Linked DNA regions of Homo sapiens. The protein of the gene in region 1 purifies or fractionates together with the protein of each later gene. This does not show direct contact. Each region holds a gene or a part of one and is shown in the gene's direction. Other genes may lie near its edges. The genes, in order: PAIP2B, PUM2, SREK1, PABPC1L, ZC3H11A, CASC3 and PDCD11.

Region 1 (3,500 bases):
TGTATGAGGGCTGAGACAAGGCTGAGGGTCACCTTGGGACTTGGGCAAGGAGTGACATATTTTTCACTACTATGTGTATATCCATAAGTCACCTTGAAAGCTCCACAAGTATTTGGGGATTACAAAGACATTTTAGCAAGTAAGCAAATTTGCAAATATGGGATCCACAAATAATGAAGATGAACTGTATTTGTAAGTGACTGCTAGGGTCTGTTTCATGGTAACCCCTTTCCCCAACAATGTGGACTATTTCTTTAGCTTATTTGATAGTTTGTACATTTATTCATAAATTTATTCAGTTATCATATATTCATTCATTCAGTTTGTTCATTTATCATATATTAAGCACTTACCATAAGTCAGACTCGGCTGAGCGTGGTGGTTCATGCCTGTAATCCCAGCACTTTGGGAGGCTGAGGCAGGTGGATCACGAGGTCAGGAGTTCAATACCAACCTGTCCAGGATGGTGGAACCCTGTCTCTACTAAAAATACAAAAAAATTAGCCAGGCATGGTGGCAGGAGCCTGTAGTCCCAGCTATTCAGGAGGCTGAGGCAGAGAATTTATTGAACCCAAGAGGTGGAGGTTGCAGTGAGCCGAATCGTGCCACTGCACTCCAGCCTGGGTGACAGAGTGAGACTCCATTTCAAAAAAAAAAAAAAAGTCTGTGTTTTTGTTTGTTTGTTTGTTTTTGAGATGGAGTTTCGCTCTTGTCACCCAGGCTGGAGTGCAATGGCACGATTTCAGCTCACTGCAACCTCTGCATCCTGGGTCAAGCAATCCTCCTGCCTCAGACTCCAAGTAGCTGGGATTATAGGCTCACACCACCACACCCAACGAATTTTTGTATTTTTAGTAGAAACAGGGTTTCACCATGTTGGCCAGGCTGGTCTCGATATTCTGACCTCAGGGAATCCACCCATCTTGGCCTCCCCGAGTGCTGGGATTACAGGCGTGAGCCTCTGCATCCAGCCTCAAACTCTGCTTTAATCTGTGGTGAACAAGCTGGAGATTAAGGTCCTGCCCTGTGGATTTTATATTTGCCTAAGAAAGACAGATAAGAGCTAAGTCAGGAGCTCTGGGGAAAGGCCCAGGTTGGAATTATAGATTCACTTGACCAAGGTAAACCTGGTGTGCCTGCTCCTACTTCACATCCCCAGACATACTTCCAGAACATTTCCTTTTGTATTTTTGTGTACAAACTTCCTTTTGAGCCTCTCTCCATTGTCACATGTCAACCTCTACTTGTCTTTTGTTGATTTTGAGGCCACTTGCCCATGTAAGTGGCAGGATATTATAGAAGAATCATGCTGACCTGGGTCTTTGAATTCTGGTTCTGCTACCTACCAACTGAGTTCCTTTGGTCAAGCTCTTGGACTTCTGAGCCTGTTTCCTAATTCCAAAAGTGGTATATGATGTGTTAGTCCCTGGTGGGTTGCAAGAAAGAGGCACACACATATCAGCTTTGGTGATGAGGGCTGAATGTAAACTTGGATGGAAAGTCATCTAAGCAGCCATATTGTCTCTTGGCCCTAGTACTTTCAAAACTTCACAGAACATTAATTTAGCAGTATTTAGTATTTGAGCTCTGAAGACCTGCCCTCTTTTGCTTTGTTCACTCAACATTTGTATTTTCCAAGAGAGAATATCTGATTGGATTAGTCTGTCACCTTCTAAAAACAGAAGGCCCCTACTAGAGAGAATTTTGAGCTGTGCCATCATGTCCTTGGTGATTGATCTCCCTGAAGTTCAGCCTATATGCCGTCCTCAGCTGAAGCACTGAGCCCTGGTCCAGTCACTTGTGGCCACAGAAGTAAGGTTGGTTTTATGCATTACCAGTCACACAGATATGCTACAGATATGCTTTTTTGTGTATGCCACAGTCACACAATAGTTGTATTGTGTCTGGAGTTGGTTCCTGCCTGTGGGTTCACGGTCTCACTGACTTCAAGAATGGAGCCCCAGACCTTCGTGGTGAGTGTTACAGCTCTTAAAGATGGTACGGACCCAAAGAGTGAGCGGTAGCAAGGTATATTGTGAAGAGTGAAAGAACAAAGCTTCCACAGCCTGGAAGGGGACCCCAGCAGGTTGCTGCTGTGGGCTCAGGTGGCCAGCTTTTATTCCCTTATTTGTCCCCTCCCATGTTCCGTTTCTGGGCTATCAAGAGTGCCCTTTTTTCAATCCTCCCTGCGATTGGCTACTTTTAGGGTCCTGCTGATTGGTGCATTTTACAGAGCGCTGATTGGCGCATTTTGCAGAGCGCTGACTGGTGCATTTTACAATCCTCTTGTAAGAGGAAAGTTCCCCAAGTCCCCACTCGACCCAGGAAATCCAGCTGTCCTCACCTCTCAGTATGACTATAGCATATTTTAAAAGAACCCTTTGGAGAGTTTCTTTAGAAGACGATTGAGAGTATAACAGTTCTAGAGTTTCATGGCCTTTTGTCCAATTCAAATACTTACCTAATATAATCATAGATAATTATTAATAAAGAATCTAACAAGGTAATTGACACATGTCAAATATTCAATACATCTCCCTTTTGGTATTGCATTTAGTATTATAGTGTGGTTATTTGTTCATATGGCTGTTTTTCATACTAGACCGTGAGCTCTGTGAGGGCAGGGTCTACAGTTTCAACTGTAGAAATTCTGAACTCTTCCTGAGAGAATGGGAGGATAGAAAGGCTTCCCAGAGAAGGTATTATTTAAGCTGATATCTTTAAGGGTGAGTAGGAATGCTTTCCAGGTGAATAAAACCTTCAGACATCATTCCAAACCGAGACTAGCAGGTGCAAAGGCACAGAGATATAGAGATGGTGAAGTTTACTTATGTGCTGTTTGTATTAAAAATACAAAGAACAAATAAAAACAAAAATTAAAAATCATCTAGAGGAAAAACTATGAATGGGCTTGGCCAGAGGGCATGTCACAATTGAGTTAGCTATGACCATAGATACTCAGTAATGGATGGAAGTTTTAGGGAAAGAGTATAACATTCTCAGGTTGTTGGCAGAGTGTCTAGAACAATTTAGAAATACAGGTAATTGAATTCTGGGAATGATTACACTGTAGTGAAATCATTTACTTCTTCTCTGCCTGTGAAGCATACATGTGTTGCACACTGTTCAAGGTCCTGAAAATGAGACTTCTTCTCAAGGAGCTCATGAGCAATCAAGGGAGACAGATGGGTGAGCAGCTGATTATCATGTGACAAGTGAGGTAATAGAGGTATAACAAAAATGCTATCTAAACAAGAAGAAAGGAATAATTAGTAATATATGGAGTGCTGGGGAAAGATTTCTCAAATGAAGCTGGCCGGGTGTGATGATGGCTCACGCCTGTAATACCAGCACTTTGGGAGGCAGAGGTGGGAGAATCCAGGAGTTCAAGACCAGCCTGGTCAACAGAGCAAGACCCTGTCTCTATATTTGAAAAAATAAACAAATATTTTTTAAAAACGAAGTGATATTTGAGCACTCTGGAGCACTATACAAATATA
Region 2 (3,500 bases), about 51 Mb from region 1:
TGGGCGCCTAACGCTTTGGGAGGCCGTGGCAGGTGGACTGCTTGAGCTCAGGCATTTGAGACCAGCCTGGGCAACGTGGTGAAACCCCATCTCAATAAGAAATGCAAAAATTAGCTGGGCATGGTGGCTCGCGTCTGTAGTCCCAGCTACCTGGGAGGCTGAGGCGCGAGGATCTCTTGATCCCAAGAGGTAGAGATTGCAGTGAGCCAAGATCGAGCCACTGCACTGCAGCATGGGCAACAGAGTGAGGCCCTGTCTCAAAAAATAAAATAAAGTAAAATAAAATAAAGTAAAATGATACTATGAAACCTTGTATCTGTTAATGGTAATGTTGAAGATATTTTCTATTACAACTCTGTTGCCTCAATAATGCTCCATCTAAGAAATTGCTTTTTTTTTCTCTGATACTGGGATGAGGGCGGGTGTCTCATCGTGTTGCTGGGGCTGGAGTGCAGTGGTGCAGTCACTGCTCACTGCAGCCTCAACTGCCCAGTCTCAAGCAGTTCTCTGACTTCAGCCTCCTGAGGAGCTGGCATTACAGGCGCACAACATCATACCCAACTAGTTATTTTGTTATTATTTGTAGAGACAAGGTCTCACTATGTTGCCTTGGCTAGTCTCGAATTTGTTGCCCCATGTGGTCTCGAATTCCTGGACTAAAGCAATCCTCCTGTCTTGGCCTCCTAAAGTGCTGGGATTATAGGTCCAAGCCACCATGCCCAACAGAAATTTCTTTTAAAGCTTAGTGTTAGGAATAAGGTTGCATCCAAGGGTTTGGTATGATTTCTTTCTCTGGCTAATGAGAATTGTACATACCTACTGTTTGTACAATTACTAGCACAACTGGTTAGCTTTAAACTTACTAGTTTATTTGCTATTTTATTTAATAAATTACTTAGTTATTTTTATTTAGAAACTTTTTTTTAATTTGAGGCAGGGTCTCTGTCATCCAGGCTGGAGTGCAGTGGTGTCACCCAGGCTGGAGTGGAGTGGTGTGAACATGACTCACTGCAGCCTTCACCTCCCTCGCTCTAGTGATCCTTCCACCTCAGCCTCTTGAGTAGCTGGGACCACAGGCATGTACCAGTACACCCAGCTAATTTTTTTGTTTGTTTTATTGTATATTTCCTTTAAGATAGTCTGCCGTCTTCCAAACATTTGCTTAAGTGAATAAAGTAAGTTTATTTAAATTATACTCAATTTTTTTTTAAACACAGACTCTTTTAAAAATATATAATTTAGCTGGGCATAGTGTGGCACTACTGTAACCCTAGAGGTTGAGGCAGGAGGATTGCTTGAGCCCAGGTTTGGAGGCTGTGAAGGCACCACCGCACTCTAGCCTGGGTGACAGAGTAAGACCCTGTCTATAAATATATATATGATTTAATACTTAATCCTTGAAACTAACACAGATTTGGTTTCTCTCCATACATTTCTACCTAGATGTTTGGTGGTGTTTTTGATGTAATAACTTGCCTTTTTAAAACTTAAGTATCTTTAGGAAATTGGCTTGGTCATTTCATCTCACTTTAAAGTTAACCAATTCAAAGCTTGTTCTTGATTACTTGAGGAACTTTAAAAACCGCAATTCATGCTAATCACCTAAATGATTCCTTTTACTTCAAAGATTTATACAATTCATATATATTTCTTAGACTATTCATAAGTCATAATAAGCTAAATATATTTTAAAGCTTTTAACCGTAAGTTAGGGTTTTCCTAGACAAAAATTAAATCTCTATTCTACCCAGTCTTATGAGAAAATTGAATATATTTCATACCTCACATTCATTTTTCTTTAAGTTGTCTTGGAAATGACTAGAAACACTACATAAAATGTATTTGTGTTAACATTTACAGAAAAGTTATGGTAATACTGGGTTAAGGTTAAACAGTTTTAATTGTAGAATTTCTTGGAGCCAGTAACAGAAGGAAGGAAAGATTGAACATGTACTCAGAGCTTGCAAAGGAGCAAGTGGGTGCTACTGAGCAGCATACCTGAAATGTATTGGACAAGGGATCACTTATTTCTGAGAACACTGAGTTGGTGAATAAGGAGCACACTTAGGAAAATTCCAAATATACTGCATTAAAGTCTGCTTCTTAAAATTGTTATTTTTCTCCAGTTGTCTCAGACCATGCATTCAGATTTCTTCCTTTAGTTCTCTGTTACAATTTAGTTAACATTTCTTTTTCTTTCTTTTTTTTTTTTTTTTGAGACAGAGTCTCACTCTGTTGCCCAGGCTGGAGTGTAGTGGCGCAATCTCCGCTCCATGCAACCACCACCTCCTGGGTTTAAGCGATTCTCCTGCCTCAGCCTCCCTAGTAGCTGGGATCACAGGCGCCTGCCACCACACCTGGCTAATTTTTATATTTTAGTAGAGACGGCCTTTCACCATGTTGGCCACCCTGGTCTCGAACTCATGACCGCAAGTGATCCACCTGTCTCAGCCTCCCAAAGTGCTGGGATTACAGGCGTGAGCAACCATGCTAGGCCTCTAGTTAACATTTCTTAAGTTGTTTTTCCTTGGTGAGGTATTAATTCTAATTGATAGCATGTAACAATTGAAAATTACTAAGATAGCCATGTGAGACAAGTCTTCATTTGTTGGACTTTCAGCCTAGTACTAATAGGAACAAAAAGTAACACAATAACTTTTGTACTTTGATAGTTTCCAAACTGTAATGCAGTTAAGCTATATTTATATAGGACATTAAGAAATTTATTTTGCTAACCTCAGTAAGTCTTACAATATGAAGAAATACAAAGATAAAGCCAACAGTACCTTCTTTACCAAAGTTGAGTGAGATGTTTATTTTTTCGTACTTCCCACAAACATATGTAGTCATACATTGCCCCCCTCCTTTTTTGAACAAAAATTGGATCATATGATACACATTAGGCAACTTTGTATTTTTACTTAATATCATGGACATTTTACATGTAACTTTAATTACTTGTAATTTTTGTACTGGCTCATTGTTTTAACTTTTTTCTGTTGTTGAGTTTGGCTTATTTTTTTAATTTTGTACCACCATATAAGTGGTGCTGCAGTAAATATCTTTATATAGTTAATTCATTTGTGTTGGTGCTGTTTGTTTAAGGTAAATTTCCAAAAGAGAAACTTCTGGGTCAAAATATTTTCTTTTTTTGCGGGGCAGGGAGAGGGGGGCTGTGCAGAGCGCAGGTAAGAGCTGTGGCCCCTGCTATGTTGCCTACGCTGGTCTTGAACTCCTGGACTCAAGTAATCCTCCTGCCTTGGCCAACCAAAGTGTTGGGATTATAGGCATGAGCCACTGTGCCCAGTCCAAAGAATTTTATATTGATTTTTAAACAAATAAACAAAAAGTTCAGTTTGATGTGTCATTAATACTCTAGAAAGCACTTGCATTTCAATTTCATTTATTACCTCACTTAATCTTTGCAACAGCCCTATGAGGGAGGCATTGTTGTTTCCATTTGCAAATGGACAAATGAGATCGAGTTCATTTAGCTAGTT
Region 3 (3,500 bases), on another chromosome or scaffold:
GTAGAGTTTTGGAAATAACTTCAGATCTTTGTAGTTTGACAATTTTTTTTTTCTTTTTTGAGACACAGTCTCACTCTCTTGCCCAGGCTGGAGTGCAGTGGTGTGATCTCGGCTCACTGCAAACTCTGCCTCCCGGGTTCAAGCAATTCTTGTGCCTCAGCCTCCCAAGTAGCTGGGATTACAGGTGTGTGGCACCACACCCAGCTAATTTTTGTATTTTTAGTAGAGATGGGGTTTCATCATGTTGGCTAGACTGGTCTCAAACTCCTGACATCAGGTGATCTGCCTGCCTCTGCCTCCCATAGTGCTAGGATTACAGGCATGAGCCACCCTGCCTGGCTGACAAAATATTTTTTAGACTAAATTCGTGGGGGTGGGAACTTTACTCATTGTGGTTATTCACTCTGGGATGAAGTTGATGAGTCCCAGCCATCTTTTGAATGTTGCCAGTCGTTGTGGTGGAGGAAAAGAGTCAAACAGTGGTTCTCAGAGCTTCTTCAGAATAGTGACACATGTCAGTTCTGCTCATATTTAACTGACCAAAGCAGGTTACATGGCCACACCTAACTTAAAGGAACAGAAAAATGGAATTTTATTGTGTACCTAGAAAGAGCTTTGGAAGTAGTTGGTGGGCAGTGCTTAGGATGGTCACACTAGTGACTCCTAGGTTTCGGACTTGGGTAGTATGATATCTTTTACTGAAATATGGAATGCAGGGGACAGAGGGCAAGACTGGTAAGGAAGGAGGTTGATGAATGTATTTTCAACTTACTTAGTGACCATCAAGGTGTAATATTCCAGCAGGCACTTGTACCTGGGAGTCTAGAGCTCACAAGAGGCCTGAATTGGTGATTTGGTCATGTAAAGGTGGTGAGTTAAGTCTGGATGTGCATACAGTTAACCTCAGTGTCAGTACACAAGTTGCTTTGACTTAGGTGTTGGGTTGGGTAAGGAGGGATTTTTGTTGAGGGCTGATGTGAATCCTGAATTGGATGCCCTTAGGCAGAAGTGAGTTGGATGCTAAGAGGTACATCCTTTTTTTTTTTTTTTTTTTTTTTTTTTTTGAGAAGGAGTCTCGCTCTGTTGCCTAGGCTGGAGTGCAGTGGCGCAATCTCGGCTCACTGCAAGCTCCGCCTCCCGGGTTCACGCCACTCTCCTGCCTCAGCCTCCTGAGTAGCTGGGACTACAGGCGCCCGCCACCACGCCTGGAGAATTTTTTGTATTTTTAGTAGAGACGGGGTTTCACCGTGTTAGCCAGGATAGTCTCGATCTCCTGACCTCGTGATCCGCCCGCCTTCCGCCTTGGCCTCCCAGAGTGCTGGGATTACAGGCGTGAGCCACTGCGCCCGGCGGTACATCTTTTATTTTCAACTTTAATTAGCCTTACTAATTGTGTTAATAATGTAAATAGTTTTAAGTTCTAAATGCAGATTCATTTTATTATCACATTGTTTGGTTAATAGCATAAATATATATAAATTTAACCGTTATTAATGTGGTTATTCTACGTTGTTTAAAGATGGTTTTGTTCCTGGACGTGAAGAATTACAAAGAAATCTGGATTTTTGGATTTTAAAAACGGCTAATGTTTGTGGAATTGCTAATTTAATAGTATGTCAGAATGGTTTAAAGATTCTTGATTAGTTGAATGATTACAGTTGCATGAAGTTTGGAATTAGATGATTAGACATTAGATGTTAACTTTGCGATTTACTAGTTCTGGAATTGTAGTCAGTTTTCTTTCCTGTTTTGTAAACAAAAGTAAATGACTATTAAGTCATATATTTTTCAAGTGATCTCTCTTTTTTTAGTGTGAAAAATCTTAAATGTTTCAAATAGATTTTAATATAAAATCTATGTTACAGATTACGTATGTACTTAGTTCGGTCTTTTTTTTCCTGCTAAAGACAATTACAGATTTTAATGAAAAGTAATTATGGATAGGCTGACAAAATGATTATCCATGAGGATAGTATATTTTCGAATCTAACAGGATGTATTCATTTTAGGAAAAGTTCCTTTCATTTGTGCTTTGTCTGGTTCATTTTTAGTATCGGCCTGCCTGGATTAAACTGAATCAAGTAGGACCAGTTAGAGTCTTTGTTGCCTATAAAATATGTAAGATTTTGTTTGTAAAATCTTTTGTCTGGAAAATCATCACTGTCCAGCTCTGGTGTATGCAAAATACCTCAATTTAAATTCCATACTACCTGACTCTTTCTAAGACTGTTGTGAAGTTTTTTAGTGATGTAAATGCTTGGGAAACACATTTAGGAAGAGTTGGAATGATGATAAAATTTGAAATCTTGAGGTTTGGAGCTTTTATAAAGGGATTTTTGCTTACATATGATACACTTTTTGAGTTAATTTTTGGGTTAAATTAGCTTTTTTTACATTCACTCGGATTAAGGATTGATTAATTTGAGTTCCAAGTTTTACAAGTAAGGCAGTAGGCCTGCCTGGATTGCCTTCTGTTGTGGTAGACAAATCACCATTAAATGACTAAGTTTCACTGTTTTATGTGTTAATGATCCTTAATAACAAAAAGTTTTAAAGTCTTAATTTCGTAAGATTATGTAAAGGTTAAGAAAGAAATTTTAAGTGAAAATGATAAAACCAAGCAAATGTTTATTAGTTCAATTGTTTTTCTTTTTATCTTGCAGCAACGCACCTCTTGCTTTTTCCTCCAAAGTATGTTATGTTAAGTTTCGTGATCCATCAAGTGTTGGCGTGGCCCAGCATCTAACTAACACGGTTTTTATTGACAGAGCTCTGATAGTTGTTCCTTGTGCAGAAGGTTGGTATCTCGCTTTTTTTCCTCTTATTTGAATTTCTGTCCTGTCTGTTATTGCCTTTAGCTTTCCTAGAGATTGGCAAGTAGACAGTACTCTTGGTGTGTGTGTGAAAGTAAGAATGAAATTTGGAGGAGGTAAACCTTTTTACCTAATAGTAATATTAAAATGGTTAATTTATGACATGTACATTTGAGGTTTTACAATTTAACATTCATTGGCTTCTGGTTTGCTTTGGCTTTCTGTAGTCAATTTGCAGATTGCAAAGAAAGCTTTCTGAAATTAAAAAATAATTGATATGGGAAATTATTTTAAATGCATAAACAAGCATTTACCTTGTGTGTTCAATATTAATACTATTACAAATGAAAATAGTGTACACATTTTGGCAAATTGGGGTTAAGTGATATTTATAAGAAAATATTTGTAATTTATACTTTCAAGTACACTCTTAAGGTAATTTACCTTAATTGTTACTATGAGATCATTATTTTATATTCAATGTAATTGTTTGCTTTGCAACTGGAATTTAATGTTTTCTTTTACTGGCCCCAAAAAGGGGCAGGAGGAGTGTTGGAAAAAAAGGAAAGCAATTTTCCAAAGCCTCCATGAAGGAAGTAGTTGTTGAAGATAGGAACAAAGGCCTTAAAGTATCCATTAAATTTTATGACCTAAACTGCTTTAAGAACTAATTATTACTAATATTTT
Region 4 (3,500 bases), on another chromosome or scaffold:
GTGTAACCACCTTCAAATTTAGTGGCCGTCAACAACAATCATTTATTTAGCTAATAATTCCACAGTTGGCAATGGGCAAAGTTCAGCTGGGCAGTTCTTCTGGTCTTGGCTGGGTTCCCTCCTATGCCCACTGAAAGCTGAGTGGGAGCTCTCGCTGGGTATATGAGGGAGCGACTGGCTGTCAGCTGGAACATCTTGGCTTTCCTCCCTATGGCCTTTTGTCCTCCAGTAGGCTAGTCCAGGCTATTCTCATGGTATTCTCATGGCAATGGCAGGGGCTCAGAAGACAAGAGTGGAAGCACACCAGGCCTCTTGAGAACTAAATGCAGAACTGGAACCATCACTTCCACTACGTTTTTTTTTTTTAATTGAGATGCAGTCTTACTCTGTTGCCTAGGCTGGAGTACAGTGGCATGATCTCAGCTTACTGCAACTTCCTGGGTTCAAGCCTCCTGAGTTCAAACGATTCTCCTGCCTCAGCCTCCCGAGTAGCTGGAATTACAGGTGCGAGCCACCATGCCTGGATAATTTTTGTATGTTTAGTGGAGACAGGGTGGGTTTCACTGTGTTGGCCAGGCTGGTCTCGAACTCCTGACCTCCCAAAATGCTGGGATTACAGCCATGAGCCACCGCACCTGGCCTCTTTCACTACATTCTATTGACCAAAGCAAGTCACAAGACCAGCCCACATTCAGAGTGAGAGGGGAGTAGAAATTATAGGATGAAGGGTGTGGCTACAGGAAGGCCATTAATTGGGGCCATCAAGGCAATTAAGTTATTGAATCTTGTTTTTAAGATTGTCTTACATTAGATGTAAGTTCCATCAGTGATCTTGTTCTTAGTCATTATTGTATCCCAATACTTAGAATAAGATGTGAAACATATTAGGTGCTCAATAAATATATGTTGAGCCAGTGGAGGTATGTCATTTGAGAAGGATTCTGATTATTTCTCTGACTTTTTATATGAGGATGTTGAGGATCAGCGGCCATATAGCAGGTCAGTATGTCTGGAACAGAGGGCTTAAACCTGGGTGTTCTGTCTCTAGATTTTATAAGGATAGTTGATCAGTTACCCCGTAGCCTTTGGAGTGTCTGCTATTCTAGGGAGGATGGGGACAGTTTTTGTAGCCTATGTGTCAGAACTTTTTTTTTTTTTTTTTTTTGAGACGGAGTCTCACTCTGTTGCCCAGGCTGGAGTGCAGTGGCGCGATCTCAGCTCACTGCAACCTCCTCCTCCCAGGTTCACGCCATTCTCCTGCCTCAGCCTCCTGAGTAGCTGGGACTACAGGTGCCCGCCACCACGCCCAGCTAATTTTTTTTGTATTTTTAGTAGAGACGGGGTTTCACCGTGTTAGCCAGGATGGTCTCGATCTCCTGACCTTGTGATCCGCCCGCCTCAGTCTCCCAAAGTGCTGGGATTACAGGCGTGAGCCACTGCACCTGGCATGTCAGAACTTTTATCAAGTGCTACTGTGTGCCAAGCATAATCCTTAAGTTCTCAACGAGGGCTCTCAAATTCCCAGTCAATAAGAGGCTATCCCTGTGGCTCAGAGGAGCAGGTAGACTTGAGGAGATGTAGTAATGCACTAAGGGTTATCTGTGACAGAGAGACGGGGCTGTTTCCTGTCTTTGAGGATCAAAGGAAGAAAGACTCTTAACTGTGTATTAAGTTCTTCACAATAATAATGGCAGATTTATCATGTACTTTCTGTGTGTTAGGTTTTCTGCATACATGTATACTCCTTAAAAGGGTACCTGGCATACTGTTAAGCTTCTAAGTGATAACTGTAACAATCAAAGAATTACTTCTGTTGGCTGACCTTGGACAAGTCATTTATTCTCATTTTCCCTCTGGGGCTCAGAGGTTAAGAAATGACTGAAAGGATTCTCTTATGACTGGCATAGATAACAAGGGAAGTATGTAATGCCCTTAGCAGGTTCTTGACCCACAGTGGGGACCCAGTCAACGTGGTTAAATCCAAGCTGAGGCTTGAGTTGAAAGTGGAAGGCCCCTGTTTCAGGATGAGAGGTGGAGGGGTATGTGCAAGGCATGGGTTTGGAAGCAAGATCTGTTGTGCAACACCCACTGGGGAGCCTCAAATGCCAAGTTGATATAGTTCTGTGGATAGAAGCTACTAGAGATTGAAGGGATGTGGTCAGAATTACATTTTAGAAAGAGCATCACAGTGGTAGTGTGCAAGCTAGGCTGGGAGGCAGTGCTTGTCATCCAGGCAGAAAATGCCACTAGCTGAGCTGAGCCTGTAGCCACAGGGATGAGTGGAGCCACAGTCACCTTGAAGTGGGGGGTTAGTGGTCTTTCTGCGAGTTCAACAAGAGGGATGGGGGCTATGTGAACTAGAAGGTCTTTCCTTGTTCTCAAGTTCTGTCCTGCTGGCCTGAGTCAGGAGGGTTACAGAATGGGAATAGGATATTGTGCATCTTTAAAAAAATTGAGGCGGGGTGCAGTGGCTCATGCTCCTAATCCCAGCACTTTGGGAGGCCCAGGTGGGTGGATCACCTGAGGTCAGGAGTCCAGGACCAGCCTAGCCAACATGGTGAAACTCCATCTCTACTAAAAATACAAAAAACTAGCCAGGCATGGTGGCATGCACCTGTAATCTCAGCTACTCGGGAGTCTGAGGCAGGAGAATCGCTTGAACCTGGGAGGCGGGGGTTGCAGGGAGCCAAGATTGTGCCATTGCACTCCAGCCTGGGCAACAAGAGTGAAACTCTATCTCAAAAAAAAAAAAAAAAAAAATTGAAATGAGTCTGTTGTTGCAGTAATTCATGTATTGGCAAAGTTTAAACAATGTGGAAGGGAAGAAAGTGAAAAACAAGACTCCATTTCTTTCAGCCCTAGTCCCCAAAAGTAATATGAATACATTTTATGTGTCTTTTTCAAAATTTCCAATGTGTAGATGCCTACTTTAGCCTGAATGGATTTTTTTTTTCACTTAACAAGACTGTCAGGCCATGTAACCTACCACATTCTCTTCAACTGTGCACATACAGTAGACTGGTGTACAATTGAGGCTCCCCCTTGATGAATACCCCGGTTGTTTCTAGTTTGCTGATAGAAACAAGGATGCAGATATGGGGGTTTGAATCTAACCCTTTTGCCCATTGCCTTAGGAAGACAATTAAAAGCCAGTATGCAGTATAGATGAAACCTGTGTTCATTTCGTTCTCCCTCTTAAATCTGTTTTTTCTTTTCTGTTTTTATTTTTTTGACACAGAGTCTCACTCTGTCACCCAGGATGGAGTTCAGTGGTGCAATATCAGCTCACCGCAACCTCCGCCTCCTCGGTTCAAGCAATTCCCCTGCCTCAGCCTCCTGAGTAGCTGGGATTACAGGCACCCACCACCACATCTGGCTAATTTTTTGTATTTTTAATAGAGACAGGGTTGCACCATGTTGTCCAGGCTGGTCTCGAACTCCTGACCTCAAGTGATATGCCCACCTCGGCCTCCCAAAGTGCTGGGATTACAGGCATGAGC
Region 5 (3,500 bases), on another chromosome or scaffold:
ACATTTAAGCATCTTTTTGTAATGGTTATTGTTTCTCTGTCTCTCTTCTCCATATTCTTAAATTTCAATGCTGGTGTTTTTTCCTGGAATTTTAAACCATAGGCTGTTTATGATGATTAGAGATTCGACATAATGCAGTTCATCGGAGGTTAGTTAGTTTTTGGGAGTACTTCTCATATCTTTTTTCCCCCTTTTTTGAACTATTAAAATGTATCTAGAAAAGTGCAAAATCGTAATCTTACAACTTGAAGAATTTTCATAGAGTGATTATACTTACTTGATCAGCACCTAGTTCAAGAAATAGAGTATTAGCAGTAATCTATCTTCCCCTTCATCCCCTTGTTACTAACCACATCCCCAAAGCTGATCAGCATCCCAACTACTCTACCATGGAGAAGTTTTGACTGTTTTCATCTTTTCATAAATGGAATGGTATAGTATGCACTCTTGTGTCTGGCTTCTTTCATTTCACATCTGTGGCATTGAGTATAGCAATGGTTTATTCCTTCTCATTACTAGATGATATTCTGTTGTACGAATACTTTACAGTTTCTTTATCCATTCTAGTATTGATGTACACATGGGTTTGCAAAATTATAGAGCTATTGAAAATAATATTGCTGTGAACATTGCTTATACACAGCTGTTGGAGAACTAATGTATATATTTTTCTAGGACATACATCCTATGATTCAGCAGTTTATTCTATTCTAGATGCACAGGTATTCTTTTTTTTTTTTTTTCTCCCAATTTTCCTTTATAAAAGTAAGGTGACTGGCCGGGTGCGGTGGCTCACACCTGTAATCCCAGCACTTTGGGAGGCTGAGGCGGGCGGATCACGAGGTCAGGAGATCAAGACCATCCTGGCTAACATGGTAAAACCTCTTATCTACTAAAAATACAAAAAAAATTAGCCGAGTGTGGTGGCAGGCACCTGTAGTCCCAGCTACTCTGGAGGCTGAGGCAGGAGAATGGCGTGAACCCGGGAGGCGGAGCTTGCAGTGAGCGGAGATCGCGCCACTGCACTCCAGCCTGGGTGACAGAGCAAGACTCTGTCTCAAAAAAAAAAAAAAAGTAAGGTGACTTGGGAAGGATACCTAACATCCTTAGTGTGTTGTTATAGGTGCCTTACTTTGAGAATTCATGAATGGGAAGAATTTTCTCAAACCCTTGAACTCTCAGCTTCAAGTAATAACTGCAGTTTATTGAGTTTGACCTATGTGCTTAGTGCTTTATATACATTATTTTATGTACTCTTCATAAGAAACCATTTATTCCCGTTTTATAGCTAAGGAAAGTGAGGCTTAGAGGCATGAATTATCCAAGGCCACCTGGCCAATAAGTAACATAATAGAGATTCAGACCGTTATCTTTGATTTCATAAACTTAAACTACTGTATCATCCTGCTTCTCTAAATTAAGTGTAGACATTTTAGGGGTTCCAGGATGAGGGTAAAAAGGGAAAGAATAACATAAACTACTCTCCTGCTCCATTCAGCTCTCCATCATGCCTAAGTTATGTTATTTTCAGCAATCTCTCTTCCTTCTAAAAATCATCTCATCTCACATGCCTCGGATTTTTGAACCCTGTATGAACTTTGTCTAGAAAACAAACTGCCACATGAATATACGTATCACTGTTTTATTTGAAAGCAATGTGTTTTTCCCTCTTACAGAAAAAACGCAGTGAAATTCCTTGTTATTGGGAAAATCAGCCAACAGGATGTCAAAAATTAAACTGCGCTTTCCATCACAATAGAGGACGATATGTTGATGGCCTTTTCCTACCTCCGAGCAAAAGTGAGATCAGTTTTTAATTTTAAAAGAATATCAAATGAACACCTATTATGCACACTGTACAACAGTACTTTTCAGACATTGACTCCTTTCAGTCTTGTGAAACAGCAGAATTATTTCCACTTTACAGATAAGTGAACTGAATCTTATTAAGGTTAAATGATTTATCCTTGGCCTTAGAACCATTATATATCTTGGCATGCCATTTAAGTTATTATACTTACTTCATTTCTCATATTCTTATCAGACCCATAAACGTTTTCAAAATAAATTTGATTTTCTAGGTCAAAGGTTGGCAAAACTGGTCCTCTGCCTGTTTTGTAAAATAAGTTTTATTGGAATATAGCCTTGCCCATTCATTTACATATTTTCTATTATCAGTTTTGTGCTAGTGCTATAGAATTGAGTAGTTGAGACAGAAACCATATGGCCCACAAAGCCTAAATTATTAACTGGCTCTTTACAGAAAATATTTGCCAACCCTACTCTAGACTATAATCTAAAATAAAACTAAAAAGCTAGTGGTTATTCCCAAAGTTCATTTTAAAGTAATTTAAAAGTGGAATTGGCCATTTAAAAGCCACAGTTGCTACGTGATTAAAATTTGATGGCTACATCTTTTTACCTCAATTTAAGGGAAAAAAGTAGACTTATTCCTTTCTGGTTTGGTTCAAGTAAGTGTCATATGCTTGGGTCTTAGAAGCTACTTCTTTGCTGAGCAAAAAGCCTAGAATTGCAGTATTAAAATTAAAGGTCTAGAATTTGTGAACAGGTACTATGCTTCTTCTAGTCTTCTGTTGATTCTGTTTTGAGTGCCCACTTTGTGTTTATGTACAGTGGAGAGTTAGTGGAGAGTTAATTAGGTAAAAGCACATCTTTTCCCTCCCTGGGACTTTAGAACTTAAATGAGGAAATTTAGTATAAATGCTCATAAGACAAATACACTATAGTTTTCATAGGTGGTCAGGAATTTTTGGTAAGTTGGGGTTGTATCTTCTGTTTTTAATTTATGACTGATTTTGTGCGTTTAGCTGTGTTGCCCACTGTGCCTGAGTCACCAGAAGAGGAAGTGAAGGCTAGCCAACTTTCAGTTCAGCAGAACAAATTGTCTGTCCAGTCCAATCCTTCCCCTCAGCTGCGGAGCGTTATGAAAGTAGAAAGTTCCGAAAATGTTCCTAGCCCCACGCATCCACCAGTTGTAATTAATGCTGCAGATGATGATGAAGATGATGATGGTAAGTTCTGTCTGGCTCCTTCTTTAAGGCAAATAAATAGGGTCTCATAGTGAATTGGGCAGAATCAGGATTAAAGCTATAGGCGTATTTTTAATTGTGAATTTGCCTTAAATGTTGATATATAGATCAGTTTTCTGAGGAAGGTGATGAAACCAAAACACCTACCCTGCAACCAACTCCTGAAGTTCACAATGGATTACGAGTGACTTCTGTCCGGAAACCTGCAGTCAATATAAAGCAAGGTAAGAAGAGGCTAGATTGGTGCCTCTTATAGCACTGTTGAAACTACCTTTGAAATTTAGTTCACAATCATTGACCTCCCTCTTCTTTTTCCCATGCTACACGCATACTTACCTATACTTAGTTTCTGTTGATCATTTATTCAAAAATAAATGCCTGCTATGTACAGATAAAATACAAAGATGAAAAGGCTCCCGTTCCTCATAAAATTTCTATTTGAATTTTCAG
Region 6 (3,500 bases), on another chromosome or scaffold:
AAAAATAACTATTGGCTGGGCACAGTGGCTCATGCCTGTAATCCCAGCACTTCGGGAGGCTGAGGTGGGTGGATAACAAGGTCAAGAGATTGAGACCATCCTGGCCAACATGGTGAAATCTCGTCTCTACTAAAAATACAAAAATTAGCTGGGCGTGCTTGCACGCCCCTGTAGTCCCAGCTACTCAGGAGGCTGAGGCAGGAGAATCGCTTGAATCCGGGAGGCAGAGGTTGCAGTGAGCCGAAATCAAGCCACTGCACTCCAGCCTGGTGACAGGGCAAGACTCCATCTCAAAAAAAAAGTATATATATATATTAATAAAAGAACGTAATTGAATTGTTTGTAACAAAGGATAAATGCTTGAGGCGATCCATACCCCATTTACCCTTACATGATTATTACACATTGTATATCTATATAAAAATATCTCATGGGCCGGGCTTGGTGGCTCACACCTGTAATCCCAGCACTTTGGGAGGCCGAGGCGGGTGAATCACCTGCGGTCAGGAGTTCGAGACTAGCCTGGCCAACATGGCGAAACCCATTTTCAGTCTCTACTGAAAATAAGAAAAATTAAGTAGGCGTGGTGGCAGGTGCCTGTAATCCCAGCGACTCAGGAGGCTGAGGCAGGAGAATCACTTGAACCCAGGAGGTGGAGGTTGCAGTGAGCCAAGATTGTGCCATTGCACTTCATCCTGGGCAACAAGAGGGAAACTCTGTCTCAAAAAACAAAAACAAAAACAAAACTCATGTACTACATAAATATATACCTACTGTGTACTCAACAAAAATTAAAAACTTTCTTTTTCTTTTTTTTTTTTTGCTTGAGATGGAGTCTTGCTCTGTAACCCAGGCAAGAGTGCAGTGGCATGATCTTAGCTCGCTGCAACCTCCACCTCCCGGGTTCAAGCGATTCTCCTGTCTCAGCTTCCCAAGTAGCTGGGATTACAGGTGCACACCACCACACCCAGCTAATTTTTGTATTTGTAGTAGAGACGGGGTTTTACCATGTTGGCCAGGCTGGTCATGAACTCGTGAACTCAGGTGATCCGTCCGCCTCAGCTTCCCAAAGTACCGGGATTACAGGTGGATTACGGGTGTGAGCCACTGTGCCCAGCCCTCTTTTTTTTTTTTTTTTTTTTTTAAAAAAGAGGCAGGGTCTCACTCTGTTGCCCAGTCACCCAGGCTGGAGTGCAGTTGTGGGGTCACAGCTCACTGCAACCTCAAACTGCTGGGTTCAACCAGTCCTCCTGCCTTGACCTCCTGAAGTGCTGAGATTACAAGCATGAGCCACCATACCCAGCCAAAAAAAAAAAAAAATTAAGTTTTTTTTTTTTTTATTGAGATGGAGTATTGCTCTGTTACCCAGGCTGGAGTGCAATGGCTCGATCTCAGCTCACTGCAACCTCTGCCTCCTGGGTTCAAGCGATTCTCCTGCCTCAGCCTCCCGAGTAGCTGGGATTATAGGCGCATGCCACCACGCCCGCCTAATTTTTGTGTTTTTAGTAGAGATGGGGTTTCACCATGTTGGTCAAGCTGGTCTCGAACTCCTGACCTCAGGTGACCCACCCACCTCGGCCTCCCAAGGTGCTGGGATTACAGGCATGAGCCACCGTGCCCCCCATTTTTTTTGTTTTGTTTTGTTTTGTTTTTTAAGACGGAGTCTCATTCCGTTGCCAGGCTGGAGTGCGGTGGTGCAATCTCGGCTCACTGCAGCCTCCGCCCCGCCTGGTTCAAGTGATTTCTCCTGCCTCAGCCTCCCGAGTAGCTGGGACTACAGGTGTGCACCACCACGCTCAGCTAATTTTTGTATTTTTAGTAGAGACGGGGTTCCACCATGTTGGCCAGGATGGTCTCCATCTCTTGACGTCGTGATCCACCCACCTCGGCCTCCCAAAGTGCTGGGATTACAGGCGTGAGCTACTGCGCCTGGCCCAAAATTTTTTTAAAAAGAGAAAAAGCCCAGATAGAGAAGATAGAGAGCGTTTGGGAACTTGGGAGTAATTAGGTGTGACTGGAGCATTGTTGGGACAGGATAGGTATTAGAAATAAAGACAAATTGGTGAGCAGGGGCCACTAATTGGTGAGGTGGGAGGATTGCTTGAGCCTGGGAAGTGAAGGTTGCAGTGAATCAAGATTGTATCACTGTACTCCAGCCTGGGCAACAGAGCAAGACCCTGTGTCAAAAAAAAAAAGTGATGCGATTGGATTTATTTATTCATTTTTTAAAAATTTTTATTTACTGTTTTTTGTTTGTTTGTTTTTTTAATTTTTAGTAGAGATGGGGTTTCACCATGTTGGCAAGGCTGGTCTCGAACTCCTGACCTCAAGTGATCTGCCGGTCTTGGTTTTTCAAAGTGCTGGGATTACAAGCATGAGCCACTATGCTTTGTCTGATTTAAATTTTAAAGATGTGTTTTTCAGATCCAGAGAACACTTGCATCAGAAAATCCAATTAGCCATTCTCTACTGAAACAGACTCTTGGGAGGGGCATTGGAGACTCAGACATTTATGTATTAAAGAATATCCCAGGTTGATGCTATGTACTGTAAAATTTGAGGATTCTTTTATAGCAGTTATTTTGTCCACAGTGAAGAGAAACAAGATCAGAGACAGAAAAGCTAGTTAAGAAAGCTATTGTAGGAATCTAGTTAAGTAGTGAGTGTGGCATGGAATAGAGTGGTGATAGTGAAAATAGAAGTGGACAGAATTCAGAGTTAGAAGTGGTTTTGGGATGGGGAATATTTGCTGCAGTACAGATGCTTTTTGATTTATGGTGTAGTTACATCCCATCCTGGTAAACCCATCATAAGTTCAGAAGTTCAAGATAACTTCTTGGCTAACTTGGAGCAGCAACTCTCTGTTGCTATCCAGCATCTCGAGAAGTACGATTTCTTTTTTTTTTTTTTTTTCTTTTTTTAAGACAGAGTCTCACTCTGTCTCACTCTGTCTGCAGTGGCGTGATCTCAGCTCACTGCAACCTCTGCCTCCCGGGTTCAAGCGATTCTCGTGCCTCAGCCTCCCAAGTAGCTGGGATTACAGGCGCACGCCACCATGCCTGGCTGATTTTTTTTGTATTTTTAGTAGAGACGGGGTTTCATCATGTTGGACAGGCTGGTCTTGAACTCTTGACCTGGTGATCCGCCTGCCTCGGCCTCCCAAAGTGCTGGGATTACAGGCATGAGCCACAGTGCCTGGCCTCTTTTTTATTTTTTTAAAAATATTTTTAATAGAGATGAGGTCACTCTGTGTTGCCCAGGCTGATCTTGAACTGGACTCAAGGGATCCTCCCACCTTGGCCTCCCAAAGTGCTGGGATTACATGTGTGGTGAGCCACTGCACCCAGCTGAGAAGTACAGTTTCTACTGAATGTTTATGGCTTTCATACCACCATAAAGTCAAAATTATAAGTTGAACCATCATACATCAGGGACCGTCTGTAGTCACTAGAGAATGGAAACGTTGGAGAAACTGACAGGCAATATGGAGTGTTCATTGA
Region 7 (2,584 bases), on another chromosome or scaffold:
TATTTACAAAGAAAACTTTTATGTCACTGCTATAAAGTTTCCCCAGTGGGCTGGGGCCTGGCATGGCCTAGGAGGAGAGGAGAGGAGAGGAGGGGTCTCTGGGCTTGGTAGGAGTCCATGCTCCTCCAGGTGGGCTGGCACGGGGGAACAGGGAGCAGCCTGAGCCAGGTGCTTTCTTTAGCGCCTCTGTGTTCCTCCAGGAGAAGCAAACCAAGCCAGCAGAAGCGCCCCGGCTGCAGCTGTCTTCAGGCTTCGCTTGGAATGTGGGACTAGACTCTCTGACCCCGGCCTTGCCACCTCTAGCAGAGAGCTCAGACAGCGAGGAGGATGAGAAGCCACACCAAGCCACGGTGCTGTATTTTGCAGGGCATGTCCTTTTTGCAGGGACCCCTTGGTGTCAGTCTCTTGTGCTCTGTTCCTAGACTGGGTGTCTTCCTGGGTGAGTGGGGGAGGGGGCAGCGGCCAGTCCCAGGCCAGGGGGTATATATAGAGCCCTGGGCTGCCCAGCCAACTCGTGACTTCCACCACAGACCTCCCCTAGGCCTTGAGGAGCAGATGACTCACGGTGTTTCTGCTTTCCATAGCAGATAAAGAAAAGCAAGAAAGAAAGGGAGTTGGAGAAGCAGAAGGCAGAGAAGGAACTGTCCCGCATTGAGGAGGCGCTGATGGATCCTGGGCGGCAGCCAGAGTCCGCGGATGATTTTGACCGACTGGTGCTGAGCTCCCCCAACAGCTCCATTCTGTGGCTGCAGTACATGGCTTTCCACCTGCAGGCCACGGAGATCGAGAAGGCCCGTGCCGTGGCTGAGAGGGCCCTTAAGACCATCTCCTTCAGGTCTCAGCTTTGCCCCAGGGAGCACAGTGTCTTCGCACGTTCTGGGCTGGGAAGTTTCTCAACCTGTGGGGTAGCTCCTCCTAGGCAGGCCGGCAGCATTTTGGGTGGCTGCCACCAGGGGCCCATGGGTCCTCAGGCTTTCTGCCATAGCTGCGGCCATCTGTGAAATAGATCTACTCATTTATATTTTATAGTCTTCTTCCCTGAAACTGCTAAGGGTAACCTTCACAAGAGTCCATACACTTATATGAGGGAACCAGTTTGAGCAGAAACACAGTAAGAAAAGAACTCACTACATACCTGGGCGAAATCCCTGTGGTGGTTTTCCAAACAGAGGGAGTTTTTGAGGCCTAATGAAGAGGGAAGGCAGTCCTTTGCTTCATCCTCTTAGCTTGAAGAGAGAATCAGACCCAGGACTCTGCGTCCAGCCCAAACCTCAGGCCCGTTTGGGATCTGGTGGGCATCCTTTCTAGGAATGGAGGCAGAATCCAGGAGAGCCTCAGACTCAGCCATTGGGGTTGGGGCAGGGGTTTCTAATGCTGCAGGAGCTGTGGGGACACAGCCTCTTAGGGTCTACATTTGGGGTGGGATCTGAGGACACAGATAGAGGCTGGGAGGGGGAGGTGGTTCCTGAGTCTGTCTGGATGGGGCGGGAGGCTCACTGGTTTCATGTGGCGCTCATGTGCTGACTGCTCTCCCTCCAGAGAGGAGCAGGAGAAGCTGAACGTGTGGGTGGCTCTGCTGAACCTGGAGAACATGTACGGCTCTCAGGAGTCCCTGACCAAGGTCTTTGAGCGAGCCGTGCAGTACAACGAGCCTCTCAAAGTCTTTCTCCACCTGGCTGACATCTACGCCAAGTCAGAGAAATTCCAGGTAGGAGGTTGGGCCACAGACGAACTCCTGGGAGTTCCAGGGCCACAATCTCAGAGAAGAGCCCCTGGGGTGCTGGGTCCAGTCCTGCTGTGAGCTTGCCACCCAACATCGGGGCCCCAACTTCCCTATCTTCCAAGTAAAAGAAGTCATTTCCCTCACCTCTTCTTCAGGCCTGTGGGGTCAAGGTGAGGGAAGGAGTGGCTTTGGAAGTGAAGGGGCAGTGGACCCCTGGTGTGTCTGCCTTGGGCTGCTGGCAGGGCATCACAGACAGAAGGGGACGTCCCGGCCCAGCATCCGCTCTGGCGTCTCTCCTACTCCCCCTTGTCATTCTCATGTTCTAGGCTAGGACCGCCCTCCCATGGGTGCGGATCAGCAGGGAATCCCCTCCGTCGTGTTGTGCCTGTTCACGGTGCCCTTCTGTGAGCCTCCCTCCCGCTCCTCTCAGGTCTCTAGCATTAGGCCCTGAGAGTGATTTGGTGTCTGGGAGCCCAGGTCTAGCTTCTTGTGAGTGTTGCTGCTTGTCTGTCTTGTCCCCTCTGTAGTATCACACTCTCCTCAGCGTGCCTCGTCTTTTCCCACAGGAAGCTGGTGAACTCTACAACCGGATGCTGAAGCGTTTCCGGCAGGAGAAAGCTGTGTGGATCAAATACGGCGCCTTCCTTCTGCGGAGGAGCCAGGCTGCAGCCAGTCACCGCGTGCTGCAGCGAGCCCTGGAGTGCCTGCCTAGCAAGGAGCGTGAGTGCTCATTCCCAGCTCCTGAGCCCATGAGCACTCCAGGATCGGGGAGTAGGAACTGGCTGTGGCATTGCTTCTTCTAAGTCAGGAGAGCCTTGTGAGGGCTTTCCTCTTGCTGCCTGTTGATTCTCTGCCCCTCAG

What was found.
Region 2: the proteins of PAIP2B (region 1) and PUM2 purify together in Homo sapiens (affinity purification with mass spectrometry; one large-scale study listed by BioGRID and IntAct). This does not show direct contact.
Region 3: the proteins of PAIP2B (region 1) and SREK1 purify together in Homo sapiens (affinity purification with mass spectrometry; one large-scale study listed by BioGRID and IntAct). This does not show direct contact.
Region 4: the proteins of PAIP2B (region 1) and PABPC1L purify together in Homo sapiens (affinity purification with mass spectrometry; one large-scale study listed by BioGRID and IntAct). This does not show direct contact.
Region 5: the proteins of PAIP2B (region 1) and ZC3H11A purify together in Homo sapiens (affinity purification with mass spectrometry; one large-scale study listed by BioGRID and IntAct). This does not show direct contact.
Region 6: the proteins of PAIP2B (region 1) and CASC3 purify together in Homo sapiens (co-immunoprecipitation; 2 studies listed by BioGRID and IntAct, with this or other methods). This does not show direct contact.
Region 7: the proteins of PAIP2B (region 1) and PDCD11 purify together in Homo sapiens (affinity purification with mass spectrometry; one large-scale study listed by BioGRID and IntAct). This does not show direct contact.

Annotation. Positions count from the first base shown.
Region 1 is NC_000002.12:71,220,604-71,224,103, reverse strand, and holds part of PAIP2B (polyadenylate-binding protein-interacting protein 2B), read left to right. Parts: intron 1-3,500. UniProt on the Homo sapiens protein: Inhibits translation of capped and polyadenylated mRNAs by displacing PABPC1 from the poly(A) tail.
Region 2 is NC_000002.12:20,340,845-20,344,344, reverse strand, and holds part of PUM2 (pumilio homolog 2), read left to right. Parts: intron 1-3,500. UniProt on the Homo sapiens protein: Sequence-specific RNA-binding protein that acts as a post-transcriptional repressor by binding the 3'-UTR of mRNA targets.
Region 3 is NC_000005.10:66,150,800-66,154,299, forward strand, and holds part of SREK1 (splicing regulatory glutamine/lysine-rich protein 1), read left to right. Parts: intron 1-2,663; coding exon 2,664-2,797; exon of another isoform or gene 2,798-3,500. UniProt on the Homo sapiens protein: Participates in the regulation of alternative splicing by modulating the activity of other splice facors. Inhibits the splicing activity of SFRS1, SFRS2 and SFRS6. Augments the splicing activity of SFRS3.
Region 4 is NC_000020.11:44,913,060-44,916,559, forward strand, and holds part of PABPC1L (polyadenylate-binding protein 1-like), read left to right. Parts: intron 1-3,500. UniProt on the Homo sapiens protein: Poly(A)-binding protein involved in oocyte maturation and early embryo development. It is required for cytosolic mRNA polyadenylation and translational activation of maternally stored mRNA in oocytes.
Region 5 is NC_000001.11:203,826,623-203,830,122, forward strand, and holds part of ZC3H11A (zinc finger CCCH domain-containing protein 11A), read left to right. Parts: intron 1-1,676; coding exon 1,677-1,800; intron 1,801-2,828; coding exon 2,829-3,032; intron 3,033-3,157; coding exon 3,158-3,274; intron 3,275-3,500. UniProt on the Homo sapiens protein: Through its association with TREX complex components, may participate in the export and post-transcriptional coordination of selected mRNA transcripts, including those required to maintain the metabolic processes in embryonic cells.
Region 6 is NC_000017.11:40,143,537-40,147,036, forward strand, and holds part of CASC3 (protein CASC3), read left to right. Parts: intron 1-3,500. UniProt on the Homo sapiens protein: Required for pre-mRNA splicing as component of the spliceosome. Core component of the splicing-dependent multiprotein exon junction complex (EJC) deposited at splice junctions on mRNAs.
Region 7 is NC_000010.11:103,441,626-103,444,209, forward strand, and holds part of PDCD11 (protein RRP5 homolog), read left to right. Parts: intron 1-200; coding exon 201-350; intron 351-584; coding exon of another isoform or gene 585-587; coding exon 588-835; intron 836-1,539; coding exon 1,540-1,708; intron 1,709-2,289; coding exon 2,290-2,443; intron 2,444-2,584. UniProt on the Homo sapiens protein: Essential for the generation of mature 18S rRNA, specifically necessary for cleavages at sites A0, 1 and 2 of the 47S precursor. Directly interacts with U3 snoRNA. Involved in the biogenesis of rRNA.